3 separate regions of the Homo sapiens genome follow, and all the other regions are reported to be linked to region 3. The links are microRNA targets in miRTarBase. Many come from high-throughput screens and were not tested one by one. Region 3 holds a microRNA gene; each other region holds the end of a gene's coding sequence.

Region 1 (7,157 bases), not on the chromosome of region 3:
CTGTCTAGTGGCCCACGTTTGCTTTGTGCACAAAGCTTGGTAGCTAGTGGTGAACAGACCTGCCACCCTGCTGGCCCCCGCTTGGTATGGCTGTGTAAGCAATTCTTGTTCACTGATTTTAAAAATACCATGTTTGAGGCAACAGCTTTGCTTCATGGCTGCAAAAATCTCTCCCCTGGTGAAGAAGCTACCCCGTGGGTATACGGCCTTGTGGTGGGGAGAATAACGGTCCTCCCCAAAGATGTTCACGCCCTAATCCCTGGAATCTGTGGCTGTTACCTTACCTGGCAAAAGGGATTTTCCAAATGTGATTAACGTTAAGGACTTTGATAGGGGGATCACCCCGTATTATCTGGGTGAGCCCACTGCAATCATGAGTCCTGAAAATGGAGAAACGTTTCCTGGATGTAGTAAGAAAGAGATATGCCAGCCAGGTGCGGTGGCTCATGCCTGTAATCCCGGCACTTTGGGAGGCTGAGTGACCCCCATCACTTGAGGTCAGGAGTTCGAGATCAGCCTGCCCAACATGGTGAAACCCCATCTCTACTAAAAATACAAAAATTAGCCGGGCATGGTGGGAGGTGCCTGTAATCCCAACTACTTGGGAGGCTGAGGCGGGAGAATGGCTTGAACCTGGGAGGCGGAGCTTGTAGTGAGCGGAGATCACGCCACTGCACTCCAGCCTGGGTGACAGAGTGAGACTCTGCCTAAAAAAAAAAAGAAAAAAAAAAAAAAAGAATTAAGCAACATATAGGACTGGATACTGGGTAATGATCAACGTTAACATTTTATAGGCCGTTTTAATTTTTTTTTTTTGAGATGGAGTCTCGCTCTGTCGCCCAGGCTGGAGTGCAGTGGCACGATCTCGACTCACTGCAAGCTCCGCCTCCCAGGTTCAAGCCATTCTCCTGCCTCAGCCTCTCCGAGTAGCTGGGATTACAGGCACCCGCCACCATGCCCGGCTAATTTTTTGTATTTTTAGTAGAGACGGGGTTTCACCGTGGTCTCGATCTCCTGACTTTGTGATCCGCCGCCTCGGCCTCCCAGAGTGCTGGGATTACAAGCGTGAGCCACCGCGCCCGGCCTCGTTTTTTTCTTTTCTGTTTTTTTTTTTTTGAGACAAAGTCTCGCTCTGTCACCCATGCTGGAGTGCAATGGCACGATCTTGGCTCACTGCAACCTCTGGCTCCCGGGTTCAAGCGATTCTCCTGCCCCAGCCTCCCGAGTAGCTGGGATTATAGGTGCGCACCACCACACCCGGATAATTTTTGTATTTTTAGTACAGACAGGGTTTCACCATGTTGGTAAGGTTGGTCTCGAACTGCTGACCTCGGGATCTGCCAGCCTCGGCCTCCCAAAGTGCTGGGATGACAGGCGTGAGCCACTGTGCCCAGCCAGGCCCTTATAATTTTCTACGGGCCTATGCTTGTTCTAAAAATATAATAGTAGAAAACACACTGGCTTTTCTGCAATCAGATCACTAATAGAGTGAGTTTTCTGTTTTTGTTTGTTTGTTTGTTTGTTTGTTTGTTTTGAGACGGAGTTTCGCTCTTGTTGCCCAGGCTGGAGTGCAATGGCGCAATCTCAGCTCGGCACAACCTCCGCCTCCCAGGTTCAAGCAATTCTCCTGCCGCAGCCTCCCGAGTAGCTGGGATTACAGGCATGCACCACCATGCCTGGCTAATTTTGTATTTTCTTTTTTTTTTTTTTTTTTTTTAGCAGAGATGGGGTTTCTCCATGTTGAGGCTGGTCTCGAACTTCTGACTTCAGGTGATCCGCCCACCTCGGCCCCCCAAAGTGCTGGGATTACAGGCGTGAGCCACCGCACATGGTCTTTTCTGTTTCTATGAAGCTTTGATAGGCTTCATTACATGCAGTTTCTCCTAAGCATAAAACTCCCTCTGAAAGCAACAGGACTTAGAAAGGACAAAAACCATGGAAAGCATCAACTGTGTGTTCAGTGCTGGATGTCATATTTAAGGACTGTGAAACGTAGGGAAACTTACAGCACCTTCCTTACCCTGAATTCACAGACAAATCAAAGCATTTGGCATTGGCAGCAGGCTTGGATTCCAGGCAATTCCAGAACCAGTCTAGATGCCTATGGGAGCACCGTCTCACCTACTGCTTTACCGAATGAAGACCTTGTGTAATCCATCCACTCCCATCCTCATTCAAGACACAGAGATTTCAGCATAGATAACAGGATATTCCCAGGCTTCACTTTTAACAGGACATTGGTGATTTTCACTGTGCCCCTTGGCATATGTAATGACTATAATTCATATGCGGATTCTTAATGAGAAAAATTTACAAATTACTGTTCAAAGTAAATTATGTTGTCTATGCAACCACTGCCTAAGCTAGAGGAAAGGGTGGGCTGGGTGTGGAAGTGAGCAACTCAAGGATATATACAAACAAATATACACAAAAACACACACACGGACACGACTGGTATCTGAAGCGTCGATGACTACGCTTGCTCTATTACCTAAAAATAAAGTGCAGCACAGTATAGCTATTCTGGTCTCTATACAATTAAAACTAAGATTGAGAACTCAGATATAACTCTTTTAAAGGGAATGCTAAATTCAGACTGAAAATGCCTGGCTCATTCATCTATAAACAGAACAATTTGAAACACATTTATTCATTATAAAGCATGCAGAACTTGGAAGACTATAATCTACTATTTTTAAAGACTGAGCCAAAAAGTACATATTGCTTATACAATATTTCAATTTTTCTTGGACTGAAACACAATAAATACCTCAACACAGCCTGTGCAAATAAGCAGCTTCAATATTCCTTCAGATTATTCCTAGTGCCTGAATGACTGACTCCACCATGATCCAGCTGCCTCAGGTTGTATTCACTAATTCTATGCATTCTAACAGACTGTATTTTTGGATGCAACTATACTATATGATTTACAGAAAACAAATCAGTATACCAAGATAAATACACTTCAGTGTGAAGTTTTAAAGTGCTACCAGAAAGTCAAATCGACTACTTACTCTCCACTCACTTTTTAAATTTTATTTTTTGTAGAGACGAGGTCTCACTATGTTGCTTAGGCTGGTCTCGAACTCCTGTGCTCAAGTGATCCTCCTGTCTCAGCTTCCCAAAGTGCTAGGATTATAGACGTGAGCCACCATGTCTGGCCTGTCCACTGACTTTTAAAATGTTCTACATAGATTTTGCCAAGAACTCCAATATTCAGTGACAATCATTTGAGTCTTCGTGGAGCTTTCAAAATACAGGTCTTTCTGCTGCCTTGCTGGGCCGTAGCTCAGATGTGGGAAGTAAACAGAATGGTCAAGATTTGGTCGGAATGGTCGGTAAGAGAATGGTCGAGGAAAAAATTCCTGCAAAATATGTTGCAAAAGGCTGGGCATGGTGGCTCACACCTGTGATCCCAGCACTTTGGGAGGCCAAGGCAGGCGGATCGTTTGAGCTCAGTTCGAGACCAACATGGCAAAACCCTGTCTCTACTAAAAATACAAAAATCAGTCAGGCTTGGTGGCATGCGCCTGTAATCCCAGCTACTCGGGAGGCTGAGGCGGGAGAATCACTGGAACCTGGGAGACAGAGGTTGCAGTGAGCTGAGATCGCACCACTGCACTCCAGCCTGGCTGATAGAGAGACTCCGCCTCAAAAAAAAAAAAAAAAAAAAAGTTGCAAAACCAGGTCCTCTTACTTTCCCTGCCTTCCTCTGCAACATTCCTTTTGAGATCAGTTTTTTTTTTAAATTATACTTTAAGTTTTAGGGTACATGTGCACAACGTGCAGGTTTGTTACATATGTATACATGTGCCATGTTGGTGTGCTGCACCCATGGTTCTGAAACTTTTTTGGCCATAGCCCCATAGGGTCCTTATTTAAGATATTCCCAAAGTCCCACACCCCAGAAATTCTGATTCTGTGAATCTGGAAAATCAGGGGCAGGAATGTTGCCTTCTAACACCCCGGGTGATTCTAACACAGGTGAATCTGGGCCACTATACAATACTGGTTTTTGTTTGCTTGTTGAGACTTGAGTCTGTTTCTTGAGACTGAGTCTCTGTCGCCCAAGCTGGAGTGCAGTGGTGTGATGGCAGGTTGCTCACTGCAACTTCTATCTCCCGGCTTCAAGCGATTCTTGTGCCTCAGCCTACCCAGTAGCTGGGAATACAGGTGTGCGCCACCAAACCCAGCTAATTTTTGTATTTTTAGTAAAGACAGGATTTCACCATGTTGGCAAGTCTGGTCTTGAACTCTGGACCTCTGGTCATCTGCCCACCTCGGCCTCCCACAGTGCTGATATTACAGGTGTGAGCCACCATGCCCAGCCAACACTGCTTTAAATACAAATTCTTCCTCTTGGGATCATAAGACTTACACGGACCTCTAAGTACCCAACATTTTCTCTTTATAAATATCAATCTTCACAAATATTATTTCCTTAAGTACATACTCCACTTAGCTCCCTCCTCTCAATAGGCCTGCCACTGAGGAAAACACCAGCTCTCACGGCACAGGCTACACTGAAGTTCAGTCATCGTTATTTAAAAAAAAAAAAAAAAAAAAGCTCAACAGTAGGTTTATCTCACTAGAGGTTTCCAACACACTTTATTTTGCAGACCACTGGTTTGTAGCTTTTGAGGACCAACATCTCTATCAATTCCTATAAAATGTCCAATCACTTTCAGTTCCGTAGCAGGCTCTTCCATACTGCACACCATGCTTATGGCTGGAGGTCCAGTTACACATGCATGAAGGCTGCCCTGCCCACTGGTTCCTGGAGGAGGGCGCGTCCGAGTTAAAGCCTCTTCCAGGAGCTTGAACTTCCCAGGGGTCATTTCCTTTGGCAAGAAGTCAGTTTACATGTGCAGCTTTGGTGCCTGTGAGCAGAAAGCACCAGAAATGGGCAGGATGTGCTGCTTTTTCTCTCACGAAGATGGGCACTTGAGGATCCAGCGCCCTTGTGCTTAATGACAGGAATCCCTCCTCATTGCTTAGTAGGTTAAAATATAAGGAAGCCTCCACTTTACATAACACAGAGAACACCTTTTTAGATTGCCTATTTATTCTAGAACTACAAAATTTAATTCAAGAAAATATAGGTCCCATGAAAGACTTAAAAGTTTTATAAAACTAAAATCTAGTTTTTCCCGATAAATTGTACTTTAGGCAAAACCCTCCCAACGCTTCTAAAATAATACTAAAAGGGGCATCTGATTATACAAGAGCAATTTAAAAAATTAAATATTTATTTGAATAACAAGTTTAAGTTCGAGCTGCAATGTTGGCAATGCAGGTTTTTAACACAGATCACAAAAAGCGTGCACAAAAAAGTACTGGCGCAAAGGACAAAATAATGCTAAGAATTAGGCCAAACAGCTGCTGATTTTAAGAAAACAAAAGGCCTGAAATCACTGTACAAAATAGAAAATGTATTAAACACTACCATCCACAGAACAGTCTTTACTATTGATTATATTTAAAAATTATTTGTGTAATTATATATTGAATTGTAAATGAGTATTATACATGAACCTCCATTCGGAAGGCAATTCCTTGTAGCACTATAGAACATCTAATAACATTGCAAAAAGTATCCTTTTTTGCTATCGATAAAACAGTTAATGGTATTACTGTAAATATCAGGAAGGCTACAAAAAAAGAAATAAGATTTCTTTTTTGTCTTCAAAGTGTTTTCCATGCAATGAAGCACTTGCTGTGTTGAACTGAATGCACTACTGGAGAATGTTCTGGGTCCGAGATGCTCTTGAGAGACAAGACTAGGCTTTTCAAATCAAACACTCAAAGGAATCATGCAACCCTCTTATGACTGGGATACCGTCATGTGCCACTTACCAATGCTGTCTCTCCAGAAAACCATTCAAGACGCTTAAAAAAAAAAATCAGACTTATATGATAAATATACATAAAATGAAGACACCAACTGCTATTTGACACGACTACGGGTAATGCCTGTGCTATGTGAAAGCACCTTTAAAAAGCCTATGCGGCAAGAGATAAGTGTCTAAAGATTCAAAATGAATCAACAGTATTGGATAACAATATAATTCTCAACTCAGAAGCTGCCTCAAGATTAGGTGCATCTTCAGTTAATGTAACAGGAAAAAAAGGCAATGGATTTTATTTTATTAATTGTATCCACTTACAAACCGACCTAAGGTCACCCCGATGTGTAGACACAATGAGATTTTTGTTGTTTATAGTCTTTAATTGAAGTGATAAGGGAAATAGATCTATTTAAAAACAAAACCAAACAGCTATTTCTGTCTAGATTAAGAGGTGGCCCCGGGTGTGGGATTCACATTTTGAGTGGCCACTTGTGGTGCGACCTCGATGATCCGGGGTTTGTCTATGATTCTGGCTGTGCGGTTGCCCTTCTCTACAATCCCAATAATCCATGCTTGGTGGCCTTCACCATATTTGGGGGACTTTATCTCTGCACAGAACCGAGCTGCTTGCTCACGTGGTAAACAGATCAGAAGGCCGCCTGGCAAAAGAAAACAAGAATGACTGTTAGTGTTGACATGACAGCAGCTTCTCTGCCTCTGCTGCTTCTGCAGAGATCCAACTTCCATCAACAACTTGCTGCCACCTATATGCAAGTAGCTCTTCCCATTCAACTAAGCAGCTTTTTTTTGAGACAGGGTCTCACTCTGTGGCCCAAGCTGGAGTGCAGTGGTACAATCACAGCTCACTGCAGCCTCAATGTCCTGGCTCAGGTGACCCTCCCACTTCAGCTTTCCCAGTAGCTGTGATTACAAGTGTGCACCACCACACCTGGCTAATTTTCTGTAGAGACAAGGTTTCACTGTGTTGTCCAGGCTGGTCTAAAACTCCTGGACTCAAGCAATCCACCTGCCTTGGCCTCCCAAAGTGCTGAGATTACAGGAATGAACCACCACTCCCAGCCTAAGAGGCCTGTTCTATGCTGTAATTAAGCAATTGCTAGTAAACTCCTAACACACACACATATACACTCCAACTTTCAACTGTGAAAATGACCTATTCGTGAACCACATAACACTGTGTAGGGGTAAGGTGTTTGGGGCTTCAATAACCCATGTGGTAGCTATTTTTTCCAAGCTACACTGAAACAAATATTGACAAACAAAAGGGAACTTTTGATTCTCTAC
Region 2 (7,157 bases), not on the chromosome of region 3:
ACATGCCCTGCTGAAGTCATTATGGTCCATGAAATCTCCAGAGACAGGTGGAGAAGCCCTAAATGGGGCTAGGATGCCAACCAGAGAATCTGTCCTATATGACCATAGTTTCAAGATAGAAAAAACTGTCACTTACCCTCTATTTTTATTTCACAGCTAAACACACTCAATTGATTACCGAATTACCATTGTTTATTCAGAGGATATTCCTCTTTCTTCCCTCCATAGAGCAGAATCGGAGATCAGAGGAGGCTCATAGAGCTGAACAGTTGCAGGATGCGGAGGAGGAAAAAGATGATTCAAATGAAGAAGAAAACAAAGACAGCCTTGTAGATGATGAAGAAGAGAAAGAAGATCTTGGCGATGAGGATGAAGCAGAGGAAGAAGAGGAGGAGGACAACTTGGCTGCTGGTGTGGATGAGGAGAGAAGTGAGGCCAATGATCAGGGGCCCCCAGGAGAGGACGGTGTGACCCGGGAGGAAGTAGAGCCTGAGGAGGCTGAAGAAGGCATCTCTGAGCAACCCTGCCCAGCTGACACAGAGGTGGTGGAAGACTCCTTGAGGCAGCGTAAAAGTCAGCATGCTGACAAGGGACTGTAGATTTAATGATGCGTTTTCAAGAATACACACCAAAACAATATGTCAGCTTCCCTTTGGCCTGCAGTTTGTACCAAATCCTTAATTTTTCCTGAATGAGCAAGCTTCTCTTAAAAGATGCTCTCTAGTCATTTGGTCTCATGGCAGTAAGCCTCATGTATACTAAGGAGAGTCTTCCAGGTGTGACAATCAGGATATAGAAAAACAAACGTAGTGTTGGGATCTGTTTGGAGACTGGGATGGGAACAAGTTCATTTACTTAGGGGTCAGAGAGTCTCGACCAGAGGAGGCCATTCCCAGTCCTAATCAGCACCTTCCAGAGACAAGGCTGCAGGCCCTGTGAAATGAAAGCCAAGCAGGAGCCTTGGCTCCTGAGCATCCCCAAAGTGTAACGTAGAAGCCTTGCATCCTTTTCTTGTGTAAAGTATTTATTTTTGTCAAATTGCAGGAAACATCAGGCACCACAGTGCATGAAAAATCTTTCACAGCTAGAAATTGAAAGGGCCTTGGGTATAGAGAGCAGCTCAGAAGTCATCCCAGCCCTCTGAATCTCCTGTGCTATGTTTTATTTCTTACCTTTAATTTTTCCAGCATTTCCACCATGGGCATTCAGGCTCTCCACACTCTTCACTATTATCTCTTGGTCAGAGGACTCCAATAACAGCCAGGTTTACATGAACTGTGTTTGTTCATTCTGACCTAAGGGGTTTAGATAATCAGTAACCATAACCCCTGAAGCTGTGACTGCCAAACATCTCAAATGAAATGTTGTGGCCATCAGAGACTCAAAAGGAAGTAAGGATTTTACAAGACAGATTAAAAAAAAATTGTTTTGTCCAAAATATAGTTGTTGTTGATTTTTTTTTAAGTTTTCTAAGCAATATTTTTCAAGCCAGAAGTCCTCTAAGTCTTGCCAGTACAAGGTAGTCTTGTGAAGAAAAGTTGAATACTGTTTTGTTTTCATCTCAAGGGGTTCCCTGGGTCTTGAACTACTTTAATAATAACTAAAAAACCACTTCTGATTTTCCTTCAGTGATGTGCTTTTGGTGAAAGAATTAATGAACTCCAGTACCTGAAAGTGAAAGATTTGATTTTGTTTCCATCTTCTGTAATCTTCCAAAGAATTATATCTTTGTAAATCTCTCAATACTCAATCTACTGTAAGTACCCAGGGAGGCTAATTTCCTTAAAAAAAAAAAATCTATCCATCTACTTCTCTCTTACCTGATTTATGTGTTAGAATAAATTCATGAAATTCGATTCCAAGCATACGAAAGATGCCTAAAGTTGATTCTATGCTCCTTAGATCCAGACAGAATAATGAGTACAGGTTTATGAAATTCTAAAAGTTTCTGTCGTCTTTAAAAAGGAACGTGCAGTATATTTCTATCTGGCTGTTTAGATAACCCTTTCCTTGTATTAATTGTGAGCACGGAGCTCACTGGTGGGGGAGGTTCTGAAACTCTCTGCCCTCCTGTGGTTGAATGAAGATGTTGCAAGACTTGCACAAAGGAGGTTATTCTTCTGACAGCATCAACTTTTAGAGATGGTTCTTTTTCATCTTTCCAATTCAGTTACTTGACAGTCTCCTTCCCCAGTATGCTGAAGTTTGTTAAGAGTCACCAGTAATTGTGCTTTTCAGACAGTAGTGCAGCTTCAAAATCGAGGCCATCACTGGGCTGATGGGCTGGGAGAACCTTGCCATGTGCCTGCCTGTTTCCTGCCCCCTTAGTCACTGCCCATTTCCTGCCCCCTTGGTCGCTGACACACCTTCACCCAAAGTGCCATGGTTCTGATGGTGGCAGTTCCATCTCCCTGACATCAGGAAGCTTTTCTCGATCAGAGCAGAGCGGGGCCTGCCTGCCCTCGTGTCACTGGATTTCTTTCTCTTATAATCAGCTGAAACAGAGTTCTCAAAGAACAGTAAACTCAGGTTCAGAGGTATTATGGAATAAGAATGGTTTCATAGTTTGGCTTTTCTATATAATTCCTCCCTCTCAAACTGAAATATTCATTTTTTTAGTGGAGTATTTGACTAGAGAGAAGGTAAGGCAGAAATACAGTCTACACTGGCTTTTAAAAATGTAAAGCCAATTTCCAACCGGACCCCAAATAGTACAGGTTGAACATTCCGTTCCAACAATCCAAAACCCCAAATGCTCCAAAATCTTAAACTTTGAGTTCCAGCATTCCGTCAGAAGTGGAAAATTTTACACCTGACCTCATTTGACAGGTGGCAGTTACAGTGCAATCAAAACTTTGTTCCATGCCCAAGATTATTAAAAATATTGGATAAAATTACCTTCAAGCTATGTTGTATAAGGTGTATATAAAACAAATGAATTTTGTGTTTAGACTTGGGTCTACTCCCAAGATACCTCATTATATATATACAAAAATCCCCAAATCCAAAAACATTTGAAACACTTCTGGTCCCACACATTTTGGATAAGGGATATTTGACCTATATCTAATTATATAATAAGAAAAATGTATTTTCTTTTTTTTTTTTTTTTGAGATGGAGTTTCACTCTTGTTGTCGCCCAGGCTGCAATGGCACAATCTTGGCTTACTACAACCTCCGCCTCCCTAGTTCAAGGGATTCTCCTGCCTCAGCCTCCCAGGTAGCTGGGATTACAGGCATGTGCCACCATGCCTGGCTAATTTTGTATTTTTAGTAGAGACGGGGTTTCGCCATGTTGGTCAGACTGGTCTTGAACTCCTGACCTCAGGTGATCCGCCCGCCTCAGCCTCCCAACGTGCTGGGATTACAGGTGTGAGCCACCGTACCTGGCAGAAAATGTACTTTCTTTCTCAGAAATACTTTTAAAAAAAATTGAAGGGTGAGGAGAAAAACATCTTGGAGAAGAGGACCCATTAAAACTTTAAATATCTGTGGGAACCATTTTTCCTGATTTTCCCTTTTTTAACATCATGGCAAAGATGGGTTTTTTTCCAACAAAATTTAATTTAATATCTTTCCACTTGAAGATTTTAGGTTTGTTTTCAATACTTAATGAATATAAAACTAAAGGAGAAAAGCCAACCTGAAATAATTTAAACTTTATATGAACATTTCGATAAGAGTTTGTGGATTTTTTCTGTAGATAATATATTTGATCCGGAACTCAAGTGCATGGAAACATGATTTTGATTTTTAAAATCTAAAAAAAAAAAAAATTAAAATCATGCTTCCCTCTATTGCAGTATCAGTTATTTAGTCACAGAATGGTATTTTATGTAAATTAAAATTAGGTGAATGCAATGCAGGTAACTGGTTTTGGAATGGGAATGTGCAGTGCTTTATGTTTGGGGAGTTGGAGCAGGGTATCTTTTCATCAATTAGAAGGAAAGTTTGAAACTTCTGATTACCTTTATGTTGGTTTCTCTTATTATTTGTCTCTTGCTAGATCTGCTAAACCAACCCAGCTTGCTCAGAGATCTCATATTGAAGCAACATACAGGCAATCCACATCTTTCTTTCCCTTTGAAGTATAGTCATTGGATGGGATGAGGGACAGGGCCTGTTGGGTTCACAGGGCCTTGCACTGCATGGGCACATACTTAAAAGCTCTTGTGCATGGAATCCCTGTCTGTTAGCCACAGGCCTCTTTAGCTCTATACATTCAAAATAACTACTGTAGTAGAAAATAGATAAGCTTCAGCTGAGTTGGCTTTTGATAGTGGAAAAAAAACAAAATTTGACTTTTTATGGCCAAAATTCCTTGTTGACAGCTGTGATGTTCTAATATGATTTGGGAATATGTCAGTCTACAGAACCTGCATCCTGTAAAAACACCTTTGGGGTAGACGATAAAAGTCATTTTTAAGGCAAATACTTACCATGTGACTTTTTATTACCAAATGCATCAGTAGTGGAGCTGGTATGTTGTTTCATAGGATGGAAACATTAGAAGTCCAGAGAAAAATAAATTTTAAAAAAAGGTGGAAAAGTTACGGCAAACCTGAGATTTCAGCATAAAATCTTTAGTATGAAGTGAGAGAAAGAAGAGGGAGGCTGGTTCTGTTGCTCGTATCAATAGGTTATCTGTGTCCCTCATCTTGGTGTTACAGTGTTATTTCTGTCAGTATTATGAATATGTGGTTGACCCATCCTGTCAAATGTACCAACATTTTCGAAAGAATTCATTCAAATCTCTTATGCCAACAGAAAAGTTCCTTCTTGTTTAATATCTCTTTACCTCAGTCCTACATTTTGATTCTCTGGAGGAGATTTTAGCTTGTCTTAAAAAGCCAAATTTGGAGTCATCAAGCCTGCTGAACCTGATGGGGCAGCTTTTTGAACAGCTTTCTGGAAGTAAGAACTTCAGTTGAAAAGCCCTTTGATCGCTTCAGCCCGGGACATGCCCTTCAGATGGCTTATTCTCAGTAAAGCTTTATGTAGACTGTGACACTGTATATGTGTGACTCGTACAACTTTGACGTGTTTCTGAAGTGGTTTAATCGTATTTGTTATTAGCTTCTTTGTGGAAATGCAATTTTTATACTAAAAACATTGCTTATTTGCAATGCAATATGTTATAAATTTGTTGTTTATATTACTGGTATTAGTCTTAGCCTAATGAACCTAATTATTTTTCTTTCTGTATTCTTTGCTTCCTCAAATAGCATCTGCAGCAATTGGAATGAGAAATCCAGATATGTGTTTCAAGTAGTACATTGCCTGAATCACAAATCACTTGATCACAGTATTGTATATAATCCCTGATCCTATTTGTTTCATTTTATTGTAAATTCCCATTTGCATCAAAACCTAATGATAGTGATTGGTAAGTAAAAACAAATGGTGTATTGCTTTTCATACAAGTGTTTTCACAAAAGCCATTTGCCTAGGCAGCAAAAAATATTAATTTGTTAAAAAAAATTTTCCTTCGTGTCCATCCTCCATCTAGTCTGTTCATTCATTCTCTCTCTTTCTCCCTTCCTGACTCGGTGAAACTCAGACCATGTGCCCTTTAGTTGCTCTGGAAAGTGCACAAAACCAAGGCAGGGTCCAAAGATCCAAGGCTCTTCCAGCCAGTGTGTTGCCATCAGAAACCTCTGGGGTCTCCCTCTGTCCTGAGGTCTTGGGGTAGCCAGATGGCAAGGGATGCTACTAATCCCCCAAGACACTGTGGATTGGTCTTGTCTTTGGGGCTTTCAGAAAACTCCCTTCTACACCTAACTCTCCCCACCACTATAGTGGAAAAGCATCAAGGTGGTAAGGTGGGTCCTTGAAACACCCTCAGAGACTGAAACAATGGAGATTGGATTTTTGTCTTTTGGAAGATGGTGGGGGATGTGTGTAGTGAGAAGACAGTTACTAAACCTGCATACCACCAAGGCCCTCCCTCAGAGATACTGGCTCAGAATGCTTATTTGCCTATACAGAGAAAAATGTCTGTCGTGCTGTCTGCCTAGATGACTTTGGTTATTCATCCTTGCCTATAGCAAAATGCAGCTTTCAAGCCAACAACACTGAATTACAAATTTAACCCCCTGCTTTGCTCTAGTCTTGAATGCTCTTTGGAACATATTTCACAGTAATAGAAATTCTTTCTTGGAACATGTGAGCTTCTTGAGATTGATAACTGTATTACGACAGTCCAGCCTGTGCTAACAGACCCGCAAATCTCGGGGGCTTTAAGAACAAGAATTGTATTACTGATTCACATAGCCCAGGCCAGGCATCCCAGGCAGGCTCTGTCCCATGCAGGTTTTTCTGGGCCTCAAGGTCAAGGGAGGCTTTGCTGTTTAACATGTGGCTGCTGGGCCGGGCATGGTGGCTCACGCCTGTAATCCCAGCACTTTGGGAGGCCGAGGGAGGTGGATCACCTGAGATCAAGAGTTTGAGACCAGCCTTAGTAACATGGCGAAACCCTGTCTCTACTAAAAATACAAAAATAAGCCAGGCGTAATGGCAGGTGCGTATAATCCCAGCTACTCAGGAGGCTGAGGCAGGAGAATTAATTGAACTCGGGAGGCAGAGATTACAGTGAGCCGAGATCATGCCTTTGCACTCCAGCCTTGGCAACAGTGCGAGACTCCATCTCAAAACAAACAACCAAAAAAACGTGGCTGCTAAGGTGGCTGTGATCATTTCCATCCCAGTCAGTCAGAGGAGTAAGAGATGGAGGAACATTGCTGAGAGATTTTAAAGCGAGGCTGCCACACGTGCATCATTTATGTTCACATTTCCTGTGAGAGGACTTAGTCACAGGGTCATACCTAACTTAAAGGAAGACTAGGATGTGTAATCTTGCTGTGTGCTTAAGAACAAAGGGAACTTGAGAGCTAGCAATCTCTTGCCACAGTGACTTTTTCTTGCCCACCTTTGTGAGCCTAGGACCTTCTATAGAGTAAGCTCCTGGGACATAGTATGAATGCACATATGGCAGGAGAGGGCAGAGTACATATGGCCCCAGTGCTGGAGGTCTTCCTGCTGGACTTGACCACTGTGGCTCTTCAAGGTACCAGAGTTTTCAAACTGAGAATTGTCATTTCATGGAGTTTGTATTTTACTTGGGAAGGTGAATATTAGCAGGAAAAGAGTTACAAGTG
Region 3 (7,000 bases):
GAAACCTGTCACCAGCCTCATCTCCTGCTCCTTCTCTGTGCTGCCCTGGCCCTCACAGCCCCACTCCCAGGATGGACCGGACCACCACAGCTCCCGGGTCAGCGGCCCGCCAGGTTGCCGTGGCTCCATGCCCACCTCCTCTGCAGGCAAGGGCGACCCAGAGTCTGGCTGGCAAGGGCAGGCCTCGCTCCGCCGCCCCTCGATGCTCCTCTTCATCACCTTGAGCTCGCTGGGGTGAGGTGTGGCCCGGCGCTGTAGGCCCTGTTGTAGGGACAAGGATGAGCAGCAGCCACAGGGCAGGGGTCAGGCAGAGGTTCGCCCCCCAGATCCTCACCCTCATACCCGCTTCTCAGCTGCAGCTTCCTCAGCGTCCTCATCACCTATGGGGGCCTCCAGGAACTGGATGACGCTGACGCGGCTCGGCGGGGCATCGCTCCAGGTCTCCGAGAGGCTCCCCTGCTGCCCAGCATCCTCTGCAGCAGGTGAGCGTCAGGACCCAGGCTAGTCCCCAAACCCTGCCTGAGAGCCACCCCGCGCTAAGCACCGGTTGCCAACAACCTACCGAGGCTGGGTGGGGGCTGCTGGGGCAGCAAGTAGCAGGTGAGCACCTTCTCGCCGGTCCGGGCATCATCCTCCGTCTGGAACCGGAGCATGGGCTGCGCCTGGTTCTCTGCCAGCCACAGGGCCTTGAGATTGAGGTGGGTGAGCGCGAACGGCAGACTCTGCAGGCTGCGGGCCGGGCGGGCACAGTCAGCAGGCGTTGGGGCCACGGTTAGGCCCGCAGGGCAAGGCTGGCACTCACCGGTTCCCCGCCACGTCCAGCACGTGCAGCTCTGTCGTGTGGGCCAGCTCTGGTGGCAGGACGGCCAGGCGGTTGTCCCTCAAGGAGAGGACGCTGAGTGCCACACAGCCCCCGATCTCGGGCGGCAGCGCCTCGAGGTGGTTCCGGTCCACGTTGAGGTTGGTCAGCTTAGTCAGCTTTCCCAGGGAGCGGGGCAGGGCCTGGCCAAGAAGAGGAGGTCAGAGGACGCTAGGGGCTTGCTGGGGGTGGGAAGGAGATGACAGCCCCTGGCAGGAGGGCACAGACACCCCAGGCCAGCTCCAGCCAGGGTCCCTCACAGCCCCTGGAGACCGGGACAAGGACCTGACCACAGAAGCTGTCTCCACCCCACTTCGTGCCCTCTGCTCCCCAAGCTCTGCCCACTGCCCTCAGCCTTCAGTCCCCACCACCAAAACACCCCACCAGGTCATCCCTGACCCTCTCCCATGGGTGCCCTGGACTGACCTGCGAGGCTGCGCCCTGTGAGCCTGTCTGGTGCCCCACTGGTCTGCCCTGTCATCCCTAGGGCTCCCCAGGCCCCCAGTTCCAGCCTGCCTGCTCAGGGCCAGCCCCTTCCCAGGGCCCTGAACCCCAGAGTCCCTTTCTCCATCTCCCCAGTGAGGAACCCCCCCGGAAACTCCCATGAACACCCTCCCCACAGCTAGCTCCTGTTTCCCAGCCTGGGGATGGGGATAGCAACACCACCGTCCCGAACCGTGGCCTGGTGCCTCAGCTTGCCCTGCTTTGTGAGGGGCAGGCAGACGCCCCTGGGGAGCAGCCTGCTCTCCATCTGTCTTCCCTACAGACAAATAAGTTCCCATTCCTGCCTCTTCTGTAACCGCTCCCCAGTGTTACAACATACAGCGATAAACACGAGACCTAGATTCTTCACGGTAAACGGCAAAGGCCCCTGCCCTGGCCTCACTGCCCCGCCTCACCTCCGGCCAGCATGCTCCCCCTCTGACAAGAGAAGAGCCCTTCCTGAGTGGCTCCACGTCAGGCTGCCACCAGCACCCCCCAGCAGCAGACACAGGCTGATGCCCTGTCCTTGTTCTGCACCCCCGACGGCCCCATCCTTTCTGCCTCCCAAGCCAGACCCTACCATCAGCAGGTTCTCCGTGAGGATCAGCTCAGAGAGGTTCTCACAGTCCCCGATGGCCTCGGTCACCTCGCACAGCCGATTCTGGTCTACCTTTAGGATGGATAGCTGCTTCAGCTGACCTGGCGTCGGGGAGACAGGGGGACAAGGCTGAGCATGGTCCCCAGACGTGCCTTACCCACCTGGCCAGAAGCGCCCTCAAGGCAGACAGCAAGGCCCCCAGCCCCTTCTGCCGCCGCCGTACTTCGGGAGGACCCTACCTACCTTGCCCCACAAGCCTGACCCAACCTCCTTCAAGAAAACACCAGGCCCCAGTGGCACTGCCACCCTTCCGCCCTCACAGACTCCACCGCCCCCTCCAGCACCACCAGCTGCCTCCTCAGCCTTCTGGGCTGCCCCAGGGTCCCACCTCCCCTCCCCAGGGACAGCTCCCAGAGCCTGGGCACACTCAGGATCCTCCCCTGTGTTCCACACCACACACAGCCCCGACGCCCCACGCTCCTCCCAGGGCCAGGCTCCGTGTGCCCCACCCAGGCACCCCCAGGCACACTAACCGATGCCGTCGGGCAGCCTCCGCAGCAGGTTCTGGGACAGCAGCAGGTCAGTGAGCAGCACCAGCCCGCCGAGCTCAGCAGGCAGCTCCTCCAGCCGGTTTTCCGACACGTCCAGGCACACCAGGCGCCGCAGGTTCCCGAGCTCCTGCAGGTGGGCAGAGAGTCAGAGCGCGGATGGGCACGAAGCAGGGGGCCAGCCCCACCCTGACTCACCGGGGGCAGTGCTGACAGCTGGTTCCGGTCAAGCCACAGCTCCCGAAGATTGGGCAGAGCCCCCAGAGTGTCTGGCTGCAAGAAGGAACAGAGAAAATAGTGACTATGAGGCAAAGCCTCCTGCTGCGCCGTGCTCAAGAGACTATACGCCCCCACACCCAGCTCCCACCCGCCTGCCCTCCCGAGGTGCCCCTTGCTGTCGGATCTGCTCGCTGTCCCCTTCTTTGCCCTTGCTTCCGTGGCCCGCCCTCCGGTCTCTGCCCTGTCAGGCCTCCACGCACCAGCACTTCCAGATCGTTGCCTCCCAGATCCAGCTGTTCCAGCTTGACCAGAAATGACAGGGACCTGCAGAGGAAGCAGGGTGGAGGTGTGGCCACGCAGCCCTGGTCCCTGGGCTGTGGCCCTGCCCTGGCTGTTAGGAGAATGCCTGTCACACTCACGCTGGCAGGGACTTGAGCAGGTTCTCCCGGAGCTCCAGGGTCACCAGGTTGGCGAGGCTGAAAGAGAGACCAGGCGCTGGGGCAAGAGGAAGGAAAGCAGTGGCAGCAGGGGCAGGGCCAATCCTGGTCCCCCACCCCACCCTAGTTCCACCTGAGAAGGCACTCACTTGCCCACGTCCCCGGGCAGTGCCTGCAGAGACACATCATTCAGGGCCAGGTGAGCCAGGCTGCGCAGCTGAGTGAAGCCATCAGGGAGCCTGGATGGGAGGAAGCAGAGGCCCTCGGATGACCAGTCCAGGGCTGTGGGACCCATAGCCCCTACCGACCCCACCACAGGCTGCCACCCACCTGGAGAGGGGGTTCCCGCTGAAGTCCGCGATCTCCAGAGCCTTGCAGAACTTGATGCTCTCCGGGATCTCAGGGATATCTGTCACAGAGGGTCACAGTGGACAGATGCCATGGCCTGCAGGCCGTCTGCAGCCCCAGCGGACACTCCCCAGACCCCACCCAGCCCCTGCCCAGGCTCCCCACCGTTCCGGGACACGTCCAGCTCCACCAGCTGCATGAAGTTGGCCACCTCGGGAGGCAACCGCTGGATCTCGTTGTCGCTCAGGCCCAGCTTGCGCAAGTTCAGCAGCCGGAAAAAAGGCTGTGGGCAGGGAGGACACGGACTCTGTGGCAGAGACCACTGCAGAGCAGAGAAGAGCTCCTGGACACGTGAGTGTCACAAGTCAAGAGTCCCTAGGCCTCTGTCTGCTCCAGGTCACACCGGGTCCTGGGGTCTAACCACGACACCCCATTTGCAAAAAAAGGAAAGAAACACACGGTACACACGCCCACTGTGGCTGCCTCCCTCTACTCTTCACACCAGCCTCCACTCTGAGAAGACACCTGCTGGCGACCAGACAAAGCCCCAATCCCCTACCCTGTGTCTTACCTCAGGGCCCACCCAGCCCCTGAACCACTTCTGCCACCCTCCAGGGGCCCACACTGGCCTCTGCTACTGCATCCTGACAACAAGCCTGGCCTGGTTCTGCAGCAAGAACTCAGTAAACGCTCCCCACAATAACACAGTACCACAGGCACAGTGCTACGCGCGAGGCCTGCAGGTGGCCACAGAGGACCGAGCTGTCACTGCCACGGCCAGAACAGGGTCACATTCTTTGGGACACCCAACCCCTAGGTACTGATCACCCAGCACCCCATCTCCAGAAAAGAAATACTTTTTAATCTGCTTTCTCCAGCCTCCTTTCTTGTAGCAGCCTTAGGAGAGCACCTGACCACGAGAAGCAAGGGTAAAGAAAGGGGGACAGCGAACAGATCCGAGAGCAAAGAGTACATCAAGAGGGCTCCCCCACTCACCCCTGCACCCAGCAAAAAAGGAGAGGAGGTCTGGACCCACCTCCAGAGCGGCCCAAGAAGCTAGTACTCATCAGCCACCTGAATCCAAGTTCCACCCTAACCCCATCCACCTCCCTGAATCCCCACGGGTTTCACTCTGAGGCTCCGCCTCCAGGCTCGGTGACAATCGCTATCCCCAGGCAAGCACCTGATGACCGCTGCCACCTGCGCCAGCCAGGGCGGCTGGAAGAGAAGGGTGGGGCTGGCTGGGGTGGGGACCTGGCCAGTGCAAACCAGCAGGGCCGGCTGGAGGCTGCGGTGACTCGCCCGGGCAGATTCTGCCGCCGGAGGAATCACGGGCTGGGGGCGCGCCTTTGGGCGGCAGGTGCGGGCGGCCGCTCACCTTGGGCAGCTCGCGCAGCTGGTTGGCGTCGAGCAGCAGCTCCTCCAGGCTGCGGCTGTAGCGGTAGATCTCCTCCGGCACGGCCTGCAGCGAACAGTGCCGCTTGTCCACCGACTCCACGTGCCGGTTGCAGCGCCACAGCGGGATGCACTTGAGCATGGTGCGGGTGGGCGGCGCGGGCTCCGGCGGCGGCGCTCGGCGGGCTCGGGGCCGGGGGGCGGGGCTCAGTCCGCATGGGCGCCGCGCATGGGGAGGGGGCGCAGGCAGGGGGCGGGCCGCCCGAGACTGGACGGGGACGCGGCCGCGGCCGGCGCTGGGCCCGGCCCGCGCTCGGAACGCTCGGACTGCGGGCCTGGGCAGGGGGCGCGGCCCGGCGGGTCTCAGACTCTTAGGAAGCGCGGGGAGCGGCGGCGGCGGCGGCTCCGCATCCCGCTTGGTCCTGCTCAGCTCGTCCCGCCCGCTCGTCCGCCCGCTGTGCCGCACCGGAACCGCCGCTGCCCGCCGGACTGCCCCGCCGACACCCACCCGGCCGCCGCGCAGCCCGTCGGGAAGCCGAGTCCGGCCCTCGCCGCCTAGCACGCCCGGACTGCGGCCCCCAGAAGGCCCCGCGCGCCGCCGCCTCTGAGGACCCGTAGCGGCACCGCGCAAAGCGTGCCGGGAAGCCGGGCCCGCCCCGCGCGCGGGATATTGGGAGCTACAATCCACGAGAGGCGGCGCCCTCCGCCCTCCGGTCTTCAGCCCGGCCCCTGGCCCCGCGGCATTTGGCCACGAATCTTAACGCACAGCCTCCTCCCGGGAAGCGACCATGCCCGCCCGCCCGCCTTGGACGGCCGGCTCTGCGGCACAAAAGCACTGGCAGCGCGCGCTGTCCAGCGGGTCGCGGTGTCCCGGTGCCCAGCCTTCTCTCAGCACCACCCTGCGGGGACGGCTGCGAGCCCGCGCGCGAGAGCCTGGCGCCCCAGGCAGCCCCGCCCACCCAGCCGCCGCCACCCGCGGGACGGGGCCCGGGGCGCCAACCCCCTGCCCAGGTCTCGCCCACGGCAGGCCCCTCCTGCCAACAGGAAGCAGGTCCAGAGACCCCCCCAACCCTGCCTCCTCGCCCTAGACCCCCTAAGGACACACGCCCAGGATCGGTGACAGGACCGACGGCAGACACACGGACGTTCAGGGCCAGCAGCATCCGCACCTTTATCCGCACTGTAGGCTGGGCTGGGCAGAGCGCGCCTGGCCCCGGGGACACCACTGTATCACTATAAAACCCAGAGGAAACAAGGAACAAGTGCAAGTCCGGGGAGAGGGACCACTGTCACGCAGAGAGGTCACTGTTATCAAAACGCTCCTGGTCGTACACTTCAGCCACCACCTTGCGGCCAGCAAACCAGCGGCCATTGAGGGCCTGGATGGCCTTATGAGTCTCAGAGGCTATGGAAAACTCCACAAAGATCTTGACAATGATTTCTGCATCCTCCTCCTCGCCTTGTTTCTCTTGGTAGATGATGACGCGGTTCACGGCCCCGAACTTGCCACACTCCTCTGTCACCTCCCCTTCCAGGTCATCATCGATGTCCTTGGGGTCCACCATGTTGCGCAGAACCATCACTGTAGACTGTGGGGCAGGGCCGAGGGGAAGACAGCTGAGCACTGCGGCCCCGCCCCCCTACCCTCTCCCCCGCCACCACCCTGCCCCTCTGCCTACCTCCTGCTTGCGGAGCAGCTTCTGCATCACCATGTGTCGGGCGCTACTGCCCGAGATGCTCATGTGCTCCTGCTCGCTCAGCATCTCTGGCCGCTCTGACTCGGGAAACAGCTCCTCTTCTTCCTTCTCCTTCTTGGGCTCCAGGAGACCCAGCGTTGGAGGGCTGGCCAGGATGGGGTTCACCACTCCCACCGAGGGGATGGTGACCGGGATAGGAGGACGGGCTGGGGTCACACCTGCAGGAAAACCAACCAGGTCCATCAGTCACTCCCTACCACCCCCCTTCCCAGAAAGGCACAGAGCTGGCCTGCCCTGGGCTCAGAGGGTTGTGCCCAGACCACCAGGGCCAGGCAGCTGAGGGCAGCGAGCCGAGAGATGCCAGGACAGGAGAGGAGAGGATCTGGTACCACTTAAGACTCACCTGTGATGACTCC

Evidence for each region. Region 3 holds the annotated microRNA hsa-miR-937-5p (GUGAGUCAGGGUGGGGCUGG, at 2,667-2,686, opposite strand). A microRNA usually pairs through its seed, bases 2 to 8, with sites in the 3' UTR of a target mRNA and lowers its output. Matches are read on the target gene's strand: a 7mer-m8 pairs with bases 2 to 8, a 7mer-A1 pairs with bases 2 to 7 and ends in A, and an 8mer does both.
Region 1: the mRNA of SEPHS1 is a reported target of hsa-miR-937-5p. The part of its 3' UTR that is shown has no 7-base or 8-base seed match.
Region 2: miRTarBase lists TMX4 as a target of hsa-miR-937-5p. Seed matches in the 3' UTR shown: 7mer-A1 at 1,379-1,385.

What each region holds. Positions count from the first base shown.
Region 1 is chr10:13,312,846-13,320,002 of GRCh38, forward strand. SEPHS1 (selenophosphate synthetase 1) reads right to left here. Exons shown (of 9, transcript NM_012247.5): 9 at 4,583-6,511. The coding sequence ends at 6,297. Among named protein-coding and RNA genes, the nearest start is that of PHYH, 16 kb to the left of the region's middle.
Region 2 is chr20:7,975,693-7,982,849 of GRCh38, reverse strand. It overlaps TMX4 (thioredoxin related transmembrane protein 4), which reads left to right. Exons shown (of 8, transcript NM_021156.4): 8 at 229-5,504. The coding sequence ends at 599. Among named protein-coding and RNA genes, the nearest start is that of HAO1, 39 kb to the right of the region's middle.
Region 3 is chr8:143,810,344-143,817,343 of GRCh38, forward strand. It overlaps MIR937 (microRNA 937), which reads right to left and starts at 2,699; the gene lies at 2,614-2,699. It overlaps SCRIB (scribble planar cell polarity protein), which reads right to left and starts at 5,430. Exons shown (of 37, transcript NM_182706.5): 1 at 4,871-5,430; 2 at 3,658-3,775; 3 at 3,475-3,553; 4 at 3,294-3,383; 5 at 3,127-3,183; 6 at 2,968-3,031; 7 at 2,687-2,761; 8 at 2,474-2,618; 9 at 1,923-2,041; 10 at 803-1,002; 11 at 563-729; 12 at 343-473; 13 at 136-261. The coding sequence starts at 5,029. PUF60 (poly(U) binding splicing factor 60) reads right to left here. Exons shown (of 12, transcript NM_078480.3): 10 at 6,988-7,000; 11 at 6,567-6,802; 12 at 6,001-6,476. The coding sequence ends at 6,177. RefSeq lists enhancers at 3,808-4,472, 4,757-5,389, 5,390-6,022.